Regions from separate parts of the Homo sapiens genome. Here region 2 is linked to region 1. Evidence: fine-mapped expression QTL. A gene starts in region 1. The other region holds a variant in brackets. All regions are shown on one strand. Distances are from middle to middle.

Region 1 (13,148 bases):
CTCTAATCCCTGTCACTAGAAAATGACTGACCTACAGCATGCTTTAGTATCTTTTCTTCACAATAAGAGAATAATATTTTAATAATGACACACAATAATTGCTAAACAGGCTTGATGGGACAGTAAGCGTAGTTCCACAAAGATGCCAAGCAGCCTGCGTGGCCTGGGGCATTATATAAAAATGAGCTAGCCATTCAAGTAGAATGTACCTCTGCAAGGCTGCAATATTACTTACATTAAAGGGCCCATCATCAAGGGGACAAGGGCTATTTCCCCAAGTCTAACGTGGATTGGAAAAATAAGGAATACTCATCTGAAACCATATTGTGTTTGTGTTTGGGCATCACTAAACACTCTGCCGAACTTTGGCTGGGCGTGGTGGCTTACGCCTGTAATCTCAGCACTTTGGGAGGACGAAGTGGGAGGATCGCCAGAGGCCAGGAGTTCAAGACCAGCCTGGCCAACATGATAAAACTCCATCGCTACTAAAAATACAAAAATTAGCCAGGTGTGGTGGTGCACACCTGTAATCCCAGCTACTCGGGAGGCTGAAGCATGAGAATCACTTGAACCTGGGAGGCGGAGGTTGCAGTGAGCTGAGATTGTCTCACTGTAGTTAAGCCTGGGTGACAGAGCGACACTCCACCTCAAACAACAACAACACTATCAAAACACTATCAAATTTTAATTGGCCATTTTATTTTATTTCATTAGCCTCACAGTGAAAATAAGAAAACAAGCACAAGGATGCTTATGATTTCTCCAGGACCATTCAGCCTCTGGGGATATCCCCTGGGAATATCTCCCAAATCTCCTGAACCTCTTTCTTTATTGCCTGGTTAATCCTTTCTTACTGTATTATGTTGAACTATAAGAAATGGCAGATGTTTGAACATTTCTGACTTAGAAAAATGGCAATTTCATTGTTTCAAATTAATGCATATTGTTTAGATAGGAAGAACACACTTGAAAATCATTATAACCATTTATACTACAATGAATACCAAAAAAATAGGTTCAAAATATACTGTTTGCAGCTTACTTGATCAGAGAGAGAACAAATTGGCAAGAACCTGTTTTTATATCAATGCTGCCTCCCATGTTAATACATTAATGTGTGCCATTTAAAATATGTTTACAAAATTGCTAATACATCATCAACACATGAAATCTCACGATGTCTTTAGAAGACACATTATGTTTACTTTTTACTAAAGGAAGCTCAAATAGTGAAGCAAAGTAACTTTCCTAAGGAAAGACTCTACGTTCAAAATTTATACAACATCCAATCATTTCTCACCACCTCTATTGCTAATGTCTGGCCCAAGCTACCAATGGAAGATTCCAAACAATTTTTTAGAATTACAATGAGACAACATTCTATACTGAGCCTTTCCTGGGCAAACCGGGATATTTGGTCATTCACCGACAAAGCTTTACATAATCTGTGAGCATCCACCTCCTCAACACATCTCTTTTCCCATCATTTTTGCCTGTTCTGGCTACATTGGCCTCTTTGGCATTTTTGGAAAACCCTGAAATACACAGACTTCTCAGGGCGATTGCACTTGCTGTTCTCTCTACCTGGAATGCTCTTCTGAAAATCTCTGTGGTTTGCTCCATGACATCCTTCAGGTCTTTGCTCAGGTATTCCCTTCCCAGAGATACCTTCCCTGACTACCACATATAAAATAACAGCTGTCCCCTACTGTCTTAGTCCATTCTCATTTTATAAATTTACCCAGTAAAGATCTGCCTGAGACTGGGTAATTTATAAAGGAAAAAGGTTTAATTGACTCACAGTTTGCCATGACTGGGGAGGCCCCAGGAAACTTACAGTCGTGGTGGAAGGGGAAGCAAACATGTCCTTCTTCACATGATGGCAGGAAGGGGAAGAGCCAAGCAAAAGCCCCTTATAAAACCATCAGATCTCAGGAGAACTCACTATCACGAAAACAGCAGCATGGGGGTAGCTGCCCCCATGATTCAATTACCTTCCACTGGGTCCATCCCATAACATGTGGGATTACGAGAACTACAATTCAAGATGAGATTTGGGTGGAGACACACGCAAACAACATCACCCACACACTTCATATCTCTATCACAATGGATTCAGTTTCTCCTTAGCACTTATCACCAAATATAATGAAATATTATAATATATGTGTTTATTGTCTACCTACTCCAACCGCCCTGTACAATGTAAGCACGAAGAGGTGAGTGGCTACATCTATTATGTATACTGCCCTAATGCTAGGTGGATAGTTAGGTACTGTACTAGTTTCTTGAGGCCACCATAACAAATTACCATAAACTGAGTGGCCTAAAACAACAGGAGTTTATTATCTCACAGTTCTGGAGGATACAAGTCCAAAATCAAGAAGAACAGGGCCATACTTCCTTCAAAGGCTCTAAGAGAAAATCCTTTCTGGACTCTTCTAGCATTTGGTGGTTGCCAGCAATTCTTGACATCCTTTGACTTGTGGCAGTATCACTCTATTCTCTGATACCATCTTCACATAGCTGTCTTTCCTCTGTGTGTCTCTGTGTCTAATTTCCCTCTTCATATAAGGACATCGGTCATTGGATTAGGGTCTGCCCTAATCCAGTATGACCTCATCTTAACTCAGTTACATGTACAAAGACCCTATTTGCAAATGAGATCACATTCACAGGTAATAAAAGTTAGGAATGTACATGTTTTGGGGGCACAGCTGAACCTAGCACAGGTACTCGACAAAATATCTACTGAATAGATGAGAAGAAAACTTGTAAACCTGAATTAGAATTGTAGAACTTCCCAGGATCTGTTATTGTAATTTCACAGTTGCTTATGGGAGATCAAATTCTTTTGTGTCTGTTGAATTTATAAGATGTCTTTATCAGATTCCCTCCATCTTCACCCTTCCAGCAACAACAAAAATAACTACTCTTAATGAATTATGCTTTTCATAAACTTTTTTGTGATTTGCAAATATGTCATGTCAATATGTAACAGCTTATTTTGGTTTTAAAAGAGACATTTGGATTTATAAAATCCCAAAAGAAAATATATACCTGAAAACATAATACCTAAGATATTTGAAAGTTGGCTCTCTCACTGGGCCAAGGTCATTACCATAGCTATCTCATAATAAGTTTTTAGTTTGACTCGTGTTTTCAGTTGGCAATAAATATGTTTTTTGAGCAAAATTATAATAGCTATGTTGCTTTTTAAATTTGTACCCTTGTGTCTTTAACTATCTAATTTTAAAATTTATCACAAAACTCAAGTAGCATAAAGGAAAAAAATAAATGCCCTTATGCAAATGGCAATTTCTTAAACATAAACAATTGCATAGTCACAGACATACAGTCATAAAGTATTTTTCATGTTACAGAAAATAAGAAACAAAAACATTTTATTATAAGGAAGCAAAAGAAAATAAAGATGGAAAACAAAATATTTAAAAAATATAAAGAGATTTTAGAAATAGCCTTGTTCCCCGAGACTAGAACATGCAGAGAAAATATAATTAGAGGAAGTGACATCATTCAGTCAAATATCATCAACACTAGAGGCTCAGAGAGGGAAAATTGTTTGCCTAAAGAAATAAAAGAGACTTTCACTAAGTATATTTACACTAGTCTGGGAAATCAGCATAACGACATGACATAAATACCATTTATTTGTGACTCCAACTCAAATTGTTCTTCTGACTGAAAATAACCAATGTATTTAATAGATTACTGATTAGGATTTTTCCTTGATAAATGAAACTGCTAAGGATTAGTAGTAAAAATAATGTCCTCTTTTTTTATGTGACAGGAAACAAATTTTCATTATTTTAATCCGCTCCCAGATAATATTCAGGAGTCAAAAATTAAAAATCATGAAATGTCTGTATCTTCTAGACTTTGCTTTAATGTTATTTGTTGAAAAATTTTTTTATTTGATTAAAGTTTTCTTATGCATTTGTGGGATCAAGTACTTTATTTCAGAAGTGAATAAATTAGCTTAAAAAGTTAGAGCTTAGCCAGGCGTGGTGGCTCATGCCTGTAATCCCAGCACGTTGAGAGGCTGAGGCAGGCAGATCACTTGGGTCAGGAGTTTGAGACCAGCATGGCCAACATGGCAAAACCCCGTCCCTACTAAAAATACAAAGAAATTAGCCAGGTGTGGTGGCACACACCTTTTATCCCAGCTACTGTGTTGGTTGAGGCATGAGAATTGCTTGAACCTGGGAGACAGAGGTTGCAGTGAGCCAAGATCACACCACTGCACTCCAGCCTGGGTGACAGAGTGAGACTCCATCTCAAAAAACAAACAAACAAACAACAACAACAAAAAACACCTAGAGCTTAAAAAAGAAATTTTCTCATTCCAATGTTTGATTCTGGCTCTTGCATAAATGGAAGTATGTTTTGAAAATGCTCTGAATGATGCACCTATATATCATATAATTTTACCTACGCACACTGTATATATACGTATATGTATGAACATAACATTATTATACATAATATGTATATATTATAGATTATATTATATATACATTATATAAGGTATATAAATATTGCTTAGCATTAGATTTAGTAAAAAATAAAGGGCTAATGAAATTTTTTTGACAGGCCTCTGTCTCTTGATGTCCTGAAATGTTTATCTCACTACCATTAAGATAATCCAATAATCAAAAAGGCACCCCCTAGTCTGGTAGCATATAAACAATAAAGCATTTCAAAATGTAATTATTTACATTTAGAAAGTCATTATATTACTTTGATTAGCTTTAGAATAATTCCTGAGAATATCTTAAGTTCTCTAAAATTTTCCATTTTCCTCCTTTGCAATTCTAACCAACATTCTCTGTAATATTGAAGAAATGCTAAGCATTAAGAAACTTGCTTTGAAATTCTGGTCTCCATCATTCATTATAGTAAACCATTATTTCTTCTGCACATCTGGCTTACAGTAAAGTTGTATCAAATTATTCTGTTCATTTATTGCACAATTAGTTGTATTTCTTTTATAATATTTTTGCCTTAGGCAGTATCAAAACTTTTAATTATTATAAAATTAAAATTGTTATCAAATGGCTGTTCTTTGGTGGACTATATTATTTTACATAATTTTAATGCTATAAATTCTAATTCCTTCCCCACTATATTTAAAAAAAATTTAATTAATTACGCTGCATTAAATTTAAAGATGAAGACATTAAATTTGTAAATGAAAAGTTCTAAAAATAATATATAATTTTTAAAAACAATTACAAAACAGAAGTACATTAGTAGCATGCAAACATTTCAAAACTGGTATGTTTTAAGCAAGCATTGTAAAAGGATATATAAAAGAAATAAAAAGGAAGGAAAAAGTTATTGAACGAAGTATGTTTAATAAGTTAGCATTCACAAACGCTATAGGACTATAATGCTTAGGACTATAACCTAAGTCAGTGAGTTAAAAATGTACCCATAAACACAAGCTTAGAGACTCCTTTTAAGCTATTTCCTTCCAAATTTTTTCCTCTTTCTGAAAATGGAATATAACTGTGCTTTTGTATTTTTCTTAAGAATCCATACTCACTGAAAGCCTTACAAAGCTAAATATAGTTGATCCCTCAAGAAATGCAATAAAGAAAAATGTTTCTGAAGTTTTTTGACTTCTGAAGTGAAAATTGTCATATAGTCCATTTTATTTTTAATTTTTTATACTGAAACTGTAAACCTATCATTTACGTCAAACTCCCATGCAATTCATTCAAAATGTAAAGGAAATTATACAAAGTGAGACTCCATCTCAAAAAACCAACAAACAAACGACAACAACAAAAAACGCCTAGAGCTTAAAAAAGAAATTTTCTTATTCCAATGTTTGATTCTGGCTCTTGCATAAATGGAAGTATGTTTTGAAAATGCTCTGGGTGATGCACCTATATATCATATAATTTTACCTGCGCACACTGTATATATATGTATATGTATGTACGTAACATTATTATACATAATTATGTATATATTATAGATTATATATACATTATATAAGGTATATAAATATTGCTTAGCATTAGATTTAGTAAAAAATAAAGGGCTAATGAAATTTTTTTGACAGGCCTCTGTCTCTTGATGTCCTGAAATGTTCATCTCATTACCATTAAGATAATCCAATAATCAAAAAGGCACCCCCTAGTCTGGTAGCATATAAACAATAAAGCATTTCAAAATGTAATTATACATATTTAGAAAGTCATTATATTACTTTGATTAGCTTTAGAATAATTCCTGAGAATATCTTAAGTTCTCTAAAATTTTCCATTTTCCTCATTTGTAATTCTAACATACCTTATTTGTATATCTGTATATTTGTATATCTGTATATCTGTAACAAAAGATACATAATTCTAAATCTCTTCTCCAAGTAGCAGAAGCAGACTCCTTGCTAGTCAACCTGACTTCTTGCAAAAGCTAATGGTTGTTACCTGAGTTTTGGTTACTATCATACCTGTGAAATAAATTAGCATTATTACAAGCATGTCAAAAATGCAGAGACATTAAATAACTTGCCTAAAGTCAGAAGTGAGTCAGAGACCCAGCTCAGGTTCCATCCAGACACTCTGCTTCCCAGGATCCTGTAACTGCATTGGGAATTTGTAATTATTTCTCCATTATTTGATTAGAAATAGGGACAATGTTGATTCTGGCTTCAATCCAGAAACAAACATGTGGACACAGGTTTAACTGAAAGAAAGCTAAAAGAGAAGATTCAAGGACAAATCCCAATACTCTGATATTTTTCTTTTTTCCCCACTTGTATGACTTTTTGTGAAAGATCCAATAATATATCTTTATAAAGATATATATATTTTACAACTTATTATTATGTTCATTCAGAGAATTTTTGTACTGTAACTTCAATAATGTTCCATTGAAGATTAAGTAAAAACGAAGTCCAGCTGAAACTTTGCTTTGTATTAAGGGTAATAACATTTTACCCACAAAAATATGAATTAATATGTCATCTCAACTAAAATATGGAGATAAGCCAAATTTTTCCTAGTTATAAAAAACAAGGCAGGTTAATAATTGCCAAGGTGAAATGGTCAGTTTATTTGCTCTCTAAGAAAAACAAAAGTATTCCCTGAGGTGCAAAATTGTGAAATTTAACTGGAAGCATCGATTATACTCTGGACAAGTTGTTCCTTTTGTTTTAAAATCCTCTAGAAGATTTTCTAATGTGTAATAGGCACTTGTTAGCTCCATTAATCGTATTGTGTAACAGTTTCTTACTGGAAATCTGGGTTCATCATTTCTTCTTTCCTTCTGATGTAACTCAAGCAGTTGTTTGCCATTTGTCCTGTGGTCCCTATTTATTCACTCAGATTCCAGTAAAATACCAAAGTTTTGTTTTCTTTCTGTTCTTTGTTATCTACTGGACTTGAGCACTGACGATGTTTGGTCTTCCCATTAAACATCTTCCTGTCCTTCACGTGGACATTTTGAAGATTATTAAGGGAAAGGTAATCCTGTTGATTTACTGGAAAAAAGAAGGAAAAAAAAAGCCAGTTAGACTGAAGTGATTTGCACACACACAGAAGAAGTGGAAATTATACATTCATAATTGTAGAGAATTCAAGCTGCTAATGTTAAATTTCAAAAGCAAAAATATGGGATTATTCGGCTAATTCAATAATGATCTCTGTGGTAAAATGACATATTTTGAAATACAAACTTATCTTTCCTTCTTGTATGCCTTTAGCTTTGTCCCCATTCAAGCAATAATTTAGCCTTGTGTTCATTTCCTCACTGGAGGGACATAACATTAACAGCAGCTAACATGTGGTATACTTATCATGTGCTAAACATGGTAATTTTATCAACTCACTCAGCCACACAGCCCTATAAGTAGGTACTGTTAATGATCTCCATTTCACAAATGACGAAACTGAGACACAGAGGTTTAAGTGACTTGCACGAGGTCACACAGCTAACAAGAGGTATAGCTGGGCTCAAAGGCAATCCTGCTCAGAATCTGTCCTCTTTTCTACTAAAGGTAGACTATGCTGTCTTTCGGAAACTTGGCTAGCATCATTACCTCAGGAGAAACTTGCAAAAGTTAATCAGGCAGTAAGGACTACTCTAGGGCCAATACTTTGTGGAGGAATTCCAAAAGCCAAATTTTCTTGGAGTAACATTATTCCATGGATGTACTGCCATAACATGGTGGAAGAACTATCATCAGGAAAGGTCAAAATTATGGCCAGGTGCGGTGGCTCACGCCTGTAATCCCAACGCTTTGGGAGGCTGAGGCAGGTGGATCACCTGAGGTCAGGAGTTCGAGACCAGCCTGGCCAAAATGGCAAAACCCCATGTATTTTTAGTTTCTACTAAAACTACAAAAATTATCCAGGTGTGGTGGTGGGCGTCTGTGGTACCAGCTACACAGGAGGCTGAGGAGGAGAATTACTTGAACCCAGGAGGCAGAGATTGCAGTGAGCCGAGATCGCGCCACTGCACTGCAGCCTGGGTGACAGAGCAAGACCCTGTCAAAAAAAAAGAAAAAGAAAAAAAGCAAGAAAGAAGAGTTGTGACCTTGCACAACTGCACCAAAGCTATGAAATGAGAATGAGACCTGAGATCACTGGCTGAAAAAAGTACAAGAAAAGCATGATATAATAGGACAACAAGTACAGTCCCACCAAGATCAGGCTGATTAGGCTCTCAAACACATTAAACGGACACTGTCAATTCTTTTTTCCTTTTCCTTTTGGAAGACCTTTTTCAGAGAACTCTTCAATTAATACATCAGTTACAGCACAATTTTCATCCAAACCCTCTGGACCCTGTATTGTGCCTGCCAGATTGAACACCTGTCCATTATTTGATACTTGACCCAGTCACCGTGGGAAGGTTTAATTCCAGATCTTGCCGCCTCCAGTCCACTCAAGCTTGCAGCGAGGAACATGTCTACTTAAGGCTGCATGAGGAACTAGACTCAGACAAATGATCTTATATCCTTGACTGTATTCTACCAGCATAAATTTCTGATGGTTATATTTTCCAAACTTGACTCCCAGTTCAGGAGGCACCCTTTTATGGGACTTATAAAACTCCATGCTCTGATTACAATGATAACATTTTAAACTTCAAATGTGCCCTTTATTAAAATATTTAGAACGGAGCGTATTGTAGATATCAAGGAAAGGGGTTGTTAAGAACAGTCTTCGTTCCACACAACTAGCAGAGCTTCCTCAGGTGGAGGTAATCAAATTCCTTCCTGAAATGCTGGTTTCAATGTCATCTCAGGCAGAGTCCTGAAAAACTAGAAAGTTTATTTGCACATAACGTAGGTCTCAGAAATTTCAATGGAGAAGCATTTTAAAATTAATAAAACTAAAACAGTTTTACTAGTGAGTTATCCTAAGTATTCCCATTATTGATGTAACTAGCAGAAAGTTTACATTAATAGATGATCAATAAATAGTTCCACCTTCACACACACTTTCTGGGAAAGATTCTGACAATATGAACTAGAAAAATAAGGGTAAAGGTGGATAAAGAAAAAGAGGAAGAAAAGAAAAATTGAGGTGCTTTGTAATGTGTCAACTTGGGTAGGCCGAACTACAGTTCCCAGAATTCCTTTTGCCTTATGTTTTCCATTAGGAGCAGTTGGCAGGCAGAAAGGAAGTGGCAGCCATCTTTGCAGCTCTCCCATGCTGTAACGTATCTCGTTGGCCTTAAGATAGTGGCTAAGCCTCCAGCTGTTTCACTTCCCTTTGGATATAATTTGGAGCCTCGTTTAGCACATTACAAATGGGTCTGGCTTCTGTAGGACACCCACATCAACCAAGGTCAGAGGCAACAAGAACTGACACAGGTTTCAGTCCGTCCTCATAGATTCCAGCTCCTGCTTCTATTACGCTCATCTACTCTCTCGCTTAACTGCAGTTCGTACTTCAAGCTCCAACATCATCCCTGGAGACAGCTGCCTTTCAAAGAGTACTTAACCAGCTCCCACAGTTGCATTAAGTCAAATCCCTTATATATCCTAGAAGCTCTGCTTCTATGATTGAACTCTGCCTGTAACTCTGAGGCTCCTGGACAGGAAAGTCGAATGCCTCAGAAGGAATTTTGTCACTGCACCATTATTTCTTCCTCCCAGAGCTCTCTGTTCTTTTGCTCACATCTGGATTGCTCTCCCTCTAGGCCTGCTACATGAGGCATGTAAAAAGTAATACTGATAGACATTTGGCAGATACTCCCAAATGTGTAGCTTCAGGTTCCACACAACCTATGTCCTCCCCTGCATACTAGTTAAGATAAAATGAAACGCTTATTCACTACTCATCTTTTCAGAGCTTTCTCACCTATGTGTTTGGATTTTTTTCCCCTCTGATTCTCAAACTAATTTTAGATTGGTTCCCTAGCAGGAAGAGTACAAAGATGTTTTCTTTTTTTTTTTCTGCCACAAAAAATAAAAAGTGTTCTTGCTGAGGAATATGTTTGTTTTTCTTTCTGTGTGTTTGCAAGGACTGTGGACTGGCATTTATTTTATGCTTCTGAATAATAACATCTTTCTTATTAAAGAAGAATCTCCCCAGAAGGTCACATGTCATTAAAAAAACAATTTTAACCAAATACACGTAAATTCTAATAGAAAACAGATTTTTTACCCGTAACACATGAAGAAGAAATTTAGCTATATTGTATAAAAATATGTAGGGAAAAAAGAACACAAGAGCTCGTGTTAAGTAAAACCACATTTTAAAATACGCCTTTAGGAACACGGAAGATGGAAGGTATCAGAAGATACTTGCTTTCATTCTACTCCTCGGTGATGATGTATCTGCTTTTTTTTTTTTTTTTTTGGATGAATTTGCAGTGTATCTTTTCATCCTGATGCCTAAATCCAGTCTCTATATGTACCTCTTTTCTCCAGTTTTTAGACTTTTAAAATATTATCTTTTCATGAAGAATTCAACTAATTGGAAAATGCGTGATTCCTACCACTATGACAATATCTGAAAGTAGAATCCTCAGGGTTGCAAGCTATTCTGACAAAATTTCTGAACTCTAGCAGAAAATGTAAAAATATACATTTGACAAAAATATATTTGCCCATTTGAATTTAAATTTTGTCTTTTTTTTACTCAGTTTTTATTTCTTAGAAAAAGGAAGACAATCTAAATATAATTCCCTGAGATATAGTTTCCTTTCACTTCAAAATAACTGTACATTAGGTTGAGAGACAAAAAAATTCATTGTCTACAATTACACATACTTTCTGATTAATCTGTTGGTTAGCCCACATTTAGTTCATCAGGCACAACTTATTTTTCTGCATGTGCATTTGGGACAATAACCGGGCATATGAAACCTTTAAAATTTACATTTAAAAATTTATATTTGCACTTGGATAACTTTGCCAATAACTAGAACTCCCTCAAAAACAAAGGCTAGGTCCCTGACTCCTATAGGCATGACCAAGAGTATACTACAAAATGATTCCTCTGAGACTGAAATGTTTTTTTCCTGCTTCCCCCTCAGAGACACATTGTGGAAAAATTCTAGAACTTTTAGAATAGACATTGTGTGCTTGACTCCAGCGATCAAAGATTCTGAAATATTGAGGCCCTATTTGAGAGTCATACACTTATACTAGTTTTATTTGTTGTTGTTGTTTATAATCTGAAGAAATGAACTTCAGCCATCTAGAACAAAAATAATTGGATTTGTTGGAGGGTTACGGACTGAGGTAAGTAGTACAATCAGTGACAGACTGATACAAGCCAAGGGAAGGCAGAATAAGGAAAGCTCCAAAAATCTCTCAAAGATGTGTTCTTGGATTTATTCTGTAGTATGCAGCCCTTAAAATGTTTTAATTTCAGTGGAATTCTGGCCTCTGTGTCTGTCCATACAAATCTCACATCCCTAAGAGGGAGAATCCAATTAGCCCAGTCATCGGTATTTCTTTCTGTTTTTTTCTTTTTCTTTCTTTCTTCCTTCCTTCCTTCCTTCCTTTCCTTTCCTTTCTTTCTTTCTTTTTCTTTCTTTCTTTCTTCTTTCTTTCTTTCTTTTTTTTTTTTTTGAGACAGAGTCTCACTCTGTTGCCTGGCTGGAGGATAGTGGTGCAATCTCAGCTCACTGCAACCTCCACCTCCCGGGTTCCAGCAATTCTCCTGCGTCAGCATCCCACGTAGCTGGGACTTGGGCATGCACCACCATGCCCAGCTAATTTTTGTATTTTTAGTAGAGATGGGGTTTTACCATGTTGGCCAGGAGGTCTCGATCTCTTGACCTCATGATCCGCCCACCTCGGCCTACCAAAGTGCTGGGATTACAGGCGTGAGCTACCACACCCAGCCATCTGTGTATTTCAGTGTACACCTAGATATATGGCACCCACACACTGAGGCCACACCTTTACTCCCTGGCCCCAAAATTTTTGTCAAATGTGGCTGCTGGGTGATCTGTTGTGAGCAAGAAAAGCTCCATAGTATGTGCCATTCTCCTACTACAAAATTAGGAAATTTCAAGAGAAATGAAAGGTGGGGATCTGTCCAGTTTAATGGAAGATTGCCTGGCTCAATAAAGATGCTCGGCAAGCCTAAGACTGCATCTCCAATGACTCTTTCACCAATGAATTAACCATAATACATGTACCCTTTTCTATTGCTGTGATGTATATAGTTGTTACCTTTTTATTTGCCTATTCTAATTTCTATGTACCCTCTCTGAATGAAATAAGTCTTAATTAGCCACCAGCCCTTCTCCTAGCCCATCCACCAAGGCTAGATGTTCTCCTATGTATTTACTTCTCTTATATCACACATCACTATATTGTGTACTGGAGCTTCTCTTTTCATTCCAGGGAGATCAGGGGCTTGTTTTTTCTTATTTCAATATCCACAGCACCCAGCATATGCACACCACACAATAGAAGCTCAGAAATATTTATTATGCATGGAATAGTAATATCACCTATTTGTATTAGCATATAATGTAAATATTCAAAATTGGTAACGATTAAACTTGATAACTTACATGAAGTGCTTATGACAATGCCTGATAGAAAATATGCGATAAATTTTCGTTTCCTTCTGTCTTGAAACAATGTCATGATTGTTTAATTCGTTCTGTAAAGAAGGAGGCAGCAGGCTGGCTCCTGG
Region 2 (8,000 bases), 100 kb after region 1:
TACCCAGCAGTGGGATTGCTGGATCATATGGTAGCTCTTGCTGTATTTTCAGTTTTTTGAGCAACTTCCAAACTGTTCTCCAGAGGGGTTGTACTAATTTACATTCCCACCAGCAGTGTATGAAAGTTCCCTTTTCTCCACATCCTCGCCAGCATTTATTATTGCCTGTCTTTGGGATAAGTGCCATTTTAACAGAGGTGAGATGATTTCTCGTTGTAGTTTTGATTGTCATTTCCGTGATCATGTTGAGCACCTTTTATGTGCCTGTTTGCCATTTGTATGTCGTCTTTTGAGAAGTGTGTCTTCAGATCTTCTGCACATTTTAAAATTAGATTATTAGATTTTTTCCTATAGAGTTTGAACTCTTTATATATGCTGGTTATTAATCCCTTGTCGGATGGTTTGCACATATTTTCTCTCATTCTGTGGGTTGTCTCTTCACTTTGTTGTTTGTTTCTTTTCTTGTGCAGAAGCTTTTTAACTTGATGTGATCCCATTTGTCTGCTTTTGCTTTGGTTGCCAGTGCTTGTGGGGTATCACTCAAGAAATTTTTGCCCAGACCAATGTCCTGCAGAGTTTCCCCACTGTTTTCATATAATAGTTTCATAGTATGAGGTCTTAGATTTATGTCTTTAATCCATTTTGATTTGACTTTTGTATATGGTGAGAGATAGAGGTCTAGTTTCATTCCTCTGCATATGGATATCCAGTTACCCCAGCACCATTTATTGTGAAGAGACTGTCTTTTCCCCACTGTATGTTCTTGGCACCTTTGTTGAAAATGAGTTTATTGTAGGTATGTGGATTTGTTTCTGGGTTCTCTGTTCTGTTCTATCGGTCTGTGTTTCTGGGTTCTCTGTTCTGTTCTGTCGGTCTGTGTTTCTGTTGTTTGTATGCCAGTACCACGCTGTTTTGGTTACTATAGCTCTGTGGTATAATTTGAAGGCAGGTTAATGTGATTCTTCCAGTTTTGTTCTTTTTGCTCAAGATAGCTTTGGCTGTTCTGAGCTTTTTTTGTGGTTCCTATAAATTTTAGGATTCTTTTTTCTCTGTGAAGAATGTCATTGGTATTTTGATCACAATTGTATTGAATCTGTAGATTGCTTCGGGGAGTACAGACATTTTAACAATATTGATTTTTCCAATCCATGAACATGGAATATCTTTCCCTTTTTGTGTCTTTTTAAATTTCTTTCATCAGTGTTTTATAGTTTTCATTGTAGAGATCTTTCACTTATTTGGTTAATTCTTAGGTATTTAATTTTATTTGTGTCTGTTGTAAATGAGATTACTGGTGGCATATAGAAATGCTACTGATTTTTGTGTGTTGACTTTGTATCCTGCAACTTTACTGAATTTGTTGATCAGTTCTAATAGTATTCTTGTGGAGTCTTTAGGCTTTTCCAAGTATAAGATTATATATATATCATATACAAACAAGGATAATTTGATTCTTCCTTTCCAGTTTGGATCCCCTCTATTTCTTTCTCTTGTCTGATTACTCTAGCTAGGACTTCCAGTACTATGTTGAATAACAGTGGTGAAAGTGGACATCCTTGTTGTGTTCCAGATCACAAAGGAATGGCTTTCAGTGTTTCCCCATTTAGTATGATACTAGCTGTGGGTCTGTTGTATATGGCTTCTAGTATGTTGAGGTATGTTTCTTCTATACCCAGTTTTTTGAGGGCTTTTATCATGAAAGGATGTTGAATTTTATCAAATGGTTTTTCAGCATCAGTTAAAATGATCATATGGGTTTTGTCCTTCATTCTGTTGATATGATGTATTACATTGATTGATTTACCTATGTTGAACCATCCTTGCATCCCTGGGATAAATCCCACTTGGTCACGATGGATCATCTTTTTAATGTGTTGTTGAATTCCGAGGTATCGGTTGTAATGTCTCCTTTTTCATCTCTGATATTATTTGGGTTTTTTGTCTTTTTTTCTTAGTCTGGTTAATGGTTTGCCAATTTTATGTATCTTTTAAAATACCAACTTTTTGTTTCGTTGCTCTTTTGTATTTTATTTCAATTTCATTTATTTCTGCTTTGATCTTTATTATTTCTTCTATTTTGGGTTTGGTTTGCTCATGCTTTTCTTGTTTTTTAACATCCATTGTTTTCGTATCTGTTATATGTATGTTTTTGGATTTCAGGTTACCATGAGGATTGCAAATACTGTCTTATAACTCAGTATTTTAAACCGATAACACTGATTGCATAAACAAACAAGCAAACAAAATGAAAACTTATGCAAATGTTAACTTTGTTTCCCTGCTTTTTAACTCTTTGTTGTTTCTCTTTATATCTTACTGTACCATGTCTTGAAAAGTTGTTGTAGCTACTATTTTTGGTTGGTTCATCATTTTGTCTTTCCACTTAAGAGTAGTTTACACACCACAATTACAGTGTTATAATATTCTGTGTACTTTCTATTACTGGTGAATTTTGTACCTTCAGACGATATCTTACTGCTCATTAATGTCTTCTTTTAGATGGAAATAAAGTATTTAGTATTTCTTGTCAGACAGGTCTGGTGTTGATGAAATCCCTCAGCTTTTGTCTGGGAAAGTATTTCTCCTTCGTGTTTGAAGGATATTTTTGCTGGATGTACTATTCTAGGGTAAAAGTTTTCTTCCTTCAGCACTTGAAACATGTCATGACACTCTCTCCTGACCTGTAAGGATTCTAGTGACAAGTCTACTGCCAGATATATTGGAACCCCATTATATGTTATTTGTTTCTTTTCTCTTGCTGCTTTTAGGGTCCTTTCTTTATCCTTGATGTTTGGCAGTTTGATTATTAAATGCCTTGAGATAGTCTTATTTGGATTAAACTATCCTGGTTTTCTGTAACCTTCTTGTACTTGAATGTTGTTAAGCTTACTACCTCTGTCTCTCTCTACCCCCTCTTTAAGGCCAATAACTTAGATTTGTCCTGTTGAGGTTATTTTGCAGATCCTGTAGGTGTGCTTTATTGTGTTTTACTTTTTTTTTCTTTTGTCTCCTCAAGTTGTGTGTTTTCAAAGAGCCTGTCTTCAAGCTAATTCTTTAGCTTGATCAATTCTATTGAGAGATTGATGCATTCTTTAGTATGTCAGTTGCGTTTTTCAACTCTAGAATTTCTGCTTGATTCTTTTAAATTATCTCAATCTGTTTATTAAATTTATCTATGAATATAGAATTCTGAATTCCCGGCCAGGTGCTATGGCTCACACCTGTGATCCCAGCACTTTGGGAGGCTGGGGCGGGTGATCACTTGAGGTCAGGAGTTTGAGACCAGCCTGGCCAACACGGTGAAACCCCGCCTCTACTACAACATACAAAAAAAAAAAAAAAGTAGCTGGACATGGTGGTGCGCACCTATAATGACAGCTACTTGGGAGGCCGAGGCAGGAGAATCGCTTGAACCCGGGAGGCGGAGGTTGCAGTGAGCCGAGATTGTGCCACCACACTCTAGCCTGGGTGACAGAGCAAGGCTCCGTCTGAAAAAAAAAAAAAAAAATTCTGAATTCCCTTCCTGTGTTATCTTGAATTTGTTTGAGTTTCCTCAAGACAGCTATTTTGAATTCTCTGTCTGAAAGGTCACATATCTCTCTCCAGGATTGGCCACTGGTGCCTTATTTGGTCCCTTTGTTGAGGTCATGATTTTTGGTCCCTTTGTTGAGGTCGTGATTTTCTGTATGGTCTTGATGTTTGTGGATGTTTGTTGGTGTCTGGGCATTGAAGAGTTATATATAGGCCTTGTATCTTGTAGGCCTCACAGTCTGGGCTTGTTTGTGCCCATTCTTCTTGGGAAAGCTTTCCAGGTATTCAAAGGGACTTGGGTCCCAAGCCCAAAAACACTGTGCTTTTTGCAGACTCATAGCGGTATACCACTTTGGTGATTTTGGATAAGATCCAGAAGAATTCTCTGAATTACCAGGTGGAGACTTCTGTTCTCTTCCTTTACTTTCTTTCAAATAAATGGAATCTCTGTGTTGAAATGCCTGGAGCTGGATGGAGATGGGGTGATGGAGGCACCCCTTTGGTGACTTACCACTGTGACTGTGCTGGGTCATACCTAAAGCCAGCACAGCACAGCACTGGGGCTTGCCCAAGACCCTCTGTAACCACTACCTGACTACCGCCTAAATTTGCCTAAATTCGCTCAAGGCCCTAGGGTTCCTACTATTAGCAGGTGGGGAA[G/A]CCAGCCAGGTTTGTGTCTTTCCCTTCAGGGCAGTGAGTTCCCCCAGGTCCCTAATGGGTCCACAGATACTGTCCTTGAGCTTAGAAATCTACCTGGTATTCTGTCCTACTGTGGCTAAGCTGGCCTTTAAACCACAAGACAAAGTCCTTCCCACTTTTACCTCTGCTTTCCATAAGCAAAGGAGTCTCTCCTGGTGGCTACCACTGTGACCACCGGCCCATGAGTTCTGCTAATATTCATTTAAAGCCCAAGGGCTTTTTAGTCAGCTTGTGGTGAATGCTGCCAGGCCTGGGACTCACCCTTCAGGGCAGTGGGCTCTCCTCTGGCCCAGGGCAGGTCCAGAAATGCTGTCCAGGAGCCAGGTTCTCGAATTGCGGATCCCAGGAGCCTGCTTGGTGCTCTACCCCACTGTGATCGCTCTGGTACTTAAGGTGCAAGACAAAGTCCCCTTTTTCCTCTACTTTTCTCAAGCAGAAGGAATCTTTCACCATAGCCATCACAGCTCAGTATACGTTGGATCTCACCTGAAGCCAGAACATCTCTGAGTCTCACCCAAGGCCCATGGCATACTACATGGGTATCACTGTCAGTTATTCAAGGTTCAAGGGCTCTTTAGTCAGCAGGTTAAGATTAAGCCAAGATTAATCCTTCCAGGACTGGGTCTTTCCCTTTAAGGCAGTGGGTTTCCTTCTGGGCCAGAGTGTATCTAAAAATGTCATCTTGGAGCTGGGGCCTGGAATGGCGACCTCACGACTCTGCCGGTGCCCTGTTGTAGCTGTGGCTGAGCTGGTATCCAAGATACAACACAAAGTCCTTTTTACTCCTTGCTCTCGTCTCCTCAAGCAGAAGGAGTCACTTGCATTGCTGCAGTCAGTGCTGCCTGGGGTTGGGGGAGGGGTGGCGTCAGCAATTCAAGATGGTCTTTCCTACCCTCAGTGTCCCTTTCAGCAATACAAAGTTAAAAGCAGGTACCATGATTGCTCACCTGGTTTTTATTCTTATAATGGTGCTTTTTTTGTGTGTAGTTGTTAAAATTTGGTGTTCCAGAAGGGGAAGATGATTGGTGGAGGCTTCTGTTCTGCCATCTTGCTCCACCCCTGCCTTTTTTTTTAATGGATCCACAACATTCATTCCAAAATATTTATAAAATGCCTACTTAATGCCAGGTTTGGCAGACCTAGCAGTGAACAAGGCCTTTGTTCTCATGGAGCTTGCATGCTAGAGTGGGAATACACTCTGAAATAACATAAGTAAATAAAAGACATATAAGTAACTGTTTATCAGTTAATGATACAGGCCATGCTCAGAATTAAAATTTGGTGATATGATGGTGTCTGTTTTATATTGGATGATCAGGGAAAGCTTCTAATGAGGGAACATTTAAGTAGAGATGTGACTAAGGAGCCAGTGTAAACCAGGATTGTTCTAGACAGTGCACTGGCCTTAAGGTGAGAATTAGCTTCGCGTGTTGAAGGAACTAGAGGGAAAGTCTATATGGTTGGAGGATATTTGTATGAGACTAAGTTGAAAGGGAGGCAAGGGCTAATTGTATAAAATATTACAGGCCATGGTTAGAAGTTTGGACTTTGCTCAAAGTTTGAAGGGAAACTCCTAGAAGATTTTAAGCAGAGAAAAAAAGTCTGGCTTGTTTTTAGAAAATTGATTATAAGGGGGTCAGGAGTGCAGTGAGATCAGAAGAGAAATGATAGTGGCTTAGATAAGGGTGGTGATAAAGAAATACGTAATTGGGATATAGTTAGGAAATCAGTAGGTCCTACTAATGGGTAGAGTGTCGAGAGAGAGAGAAAACTGGCTAGGAGGAAATACGATTTACCAAAATGAAGAAGGCTTGGGAGAAGGGGGAGATGAAGAGCTCTGTTTTTTTTGAGGGGGGTGGGGTTTGAGACAGAGGCTCACTCTTATCACCCAGGCGGGAATGCAGTGGCGCGATCTCGGCTCACTGCAACCCTTGCCTTCTGGGTTCAAGCGATTCTCCCACCTCAGCCTCCCAAGTATCTGGGACTACAGGTGCCTGTCACCATGCCTGGCTTGCTTTTTGTATTTTTAGTAGAGATGGTGTTTCCCTATGTTGACCACGCTGACCTCAAGTGATGCACCCGCCTGGGCCTCCCAAAGTGCTGGGATTATAGGCTCGAGCCACTGTGCCAGCCAAGAGTTTTATTTTGTACTTTAAAATTGAACTGTCTTTTAGACAATCGTAGAGAGGTCAAGTAGTCATTTGGTTACTCAGCTAATTCCAGGCACAGCTGGAGATAGACATAAGGTAGATTATAGCATATAGCTGCTGCCTAAAGCCAGGGCATTTGATTTGAGAATAGAAAGGGGCCTTGCAACTGTGATGTGGGACCAGGTGATTCAGCATTTGTAAGTTGTACAAAAGCGGAGCCAGGGTTGACCAAGAAGGACTGCAAGGAGTTAGTTATGTTGATGGCTGCTATGAGGTCAAGTAGTCATAAAATACAATTTTCTATTAATTATTTTTTCAGTCCCTGTTGTTAAATATTTGTGTTTATTCTGGTTTCTTTTCCACTATTACAAACACTTATTGAATGATTGAAGGTAATCTGTTTACTTTTGTTTCTCTAGAAACAATTTTTAGACATAAAATTTTTAGTTCAAAGGTCATAAACATTTTTAAAGCTTTTTAGACAAGCTGATTGTCCTTCAGAGAAACTAACCAGTTTATATTCCCATCAACATTGATAGTATCAGACTGGTAAGCAGTACTATTAATTTCATTTAACAACATTGATCAGGGCAGATGGAGACATGTGCAACAAATGGAATAGGAAGACAGGACTTCTTTCTGAGATGGCATTCATTACATTCTAATTTAAAATGGAAGTTTTAACAATTAGAAGTGAAAAGTAATTGTTTTCTTTTCATCTAGATATGGTAAACTACAAAATACATTGTCACTGGGCTAGTTTCTTATATTGTACTCATACTTTTCTTTGTAAGACATGTACCACAGAGAATTGCTTCCATTGTGCTCATATTTCTTCCCTCAGCAGAAGTAATTGCTTTTTTTTGGAATGTTTTGAGAGAAGAGAGATCTTTGAGAAAGCACCTGTAGAAACTGCTTTCTCTGTATCTGACTTTACAGCTGAGAGGAAAAAGTCAGCTGATCGTGTCCAGATTATTCCATGTAAAAACAGAAACACGTAGCCTTGTTCTGGGCAATTGCAACAGTTCCTAAATGGCCTTACTATCCTTTTGCCGCTGCTTCTAACCTTTCTTTTTTTTTTTTTTTTTTTTTTTTTTTTTTTTTTTTTTTTGTGGAGAGATCTGTTAAATTTTTTTTTTCTTTTTTTTTTTTTCTTTTTTTTATTATACTCTAAGTTATAGGGTACATGTGCACATTGTGCAGGTTAGTTACATATGTATACATGTGCCATGCTGGTGCGCTGCACCCACTAATGTGTCATCTAGCATTAGGTATATCTCCCAATGCTATCCCTCCCCCCTCCCCCGACCCCACCACAGTCCCCAGAGTGTGATATTCCCCTTCCTGTGTCCATGTGATCTCATTGTTCAATTCCCACCTATGAGTGAGAATATGCGGTGTTTGGTTTTTTGTTCTTGCGATAGTTTACTGAGAATGATGGTTTCCAATTTCATCCATGTCCCTACAAAGGATATGAACTCATCATTTTTTATGGCTGCATAGTATTCCATGGTGTATATGTGCCACATTTTCTTAATCCAGTCTATCATTGTTGGACATTTGGGTTGGTTCCAAGTCTTTGCTATTGTGAATAGTGCCGCAATAAACATACGTGTGCAT

What was found. PIP is the estimated chance that this variant, and not a neighbour inherited with it, causes the effect.
Region 2: its variant is fine-mapped to the expression of FGL1 in prefrontal cortex (CommonMind, PIP 0.93).

The regions. Positions count from the first base shown.
Region 1 is chr8:17,888,901-17,902,048 of GRCh38, forward strand. It overlaps FGL1 (fibrinogen like 1), which reads right to left and starts at 6,624. Exons shown (of 8, transcript NM_004467.4): 1 at 6,547-6,624.
Region 2 is chr8:17,994,545-18,002,544 of GRCh38, forward strand. All of the region lies in intron 29 of PCM1 (pericentriolar material 1), which reads left to right. Among named protein-coding and RNA genes, the nearest start is that of PCM1, 76 kb to the left of the region's middle. The variant G/A (reference allele first, on the strand shown) is at 4,192.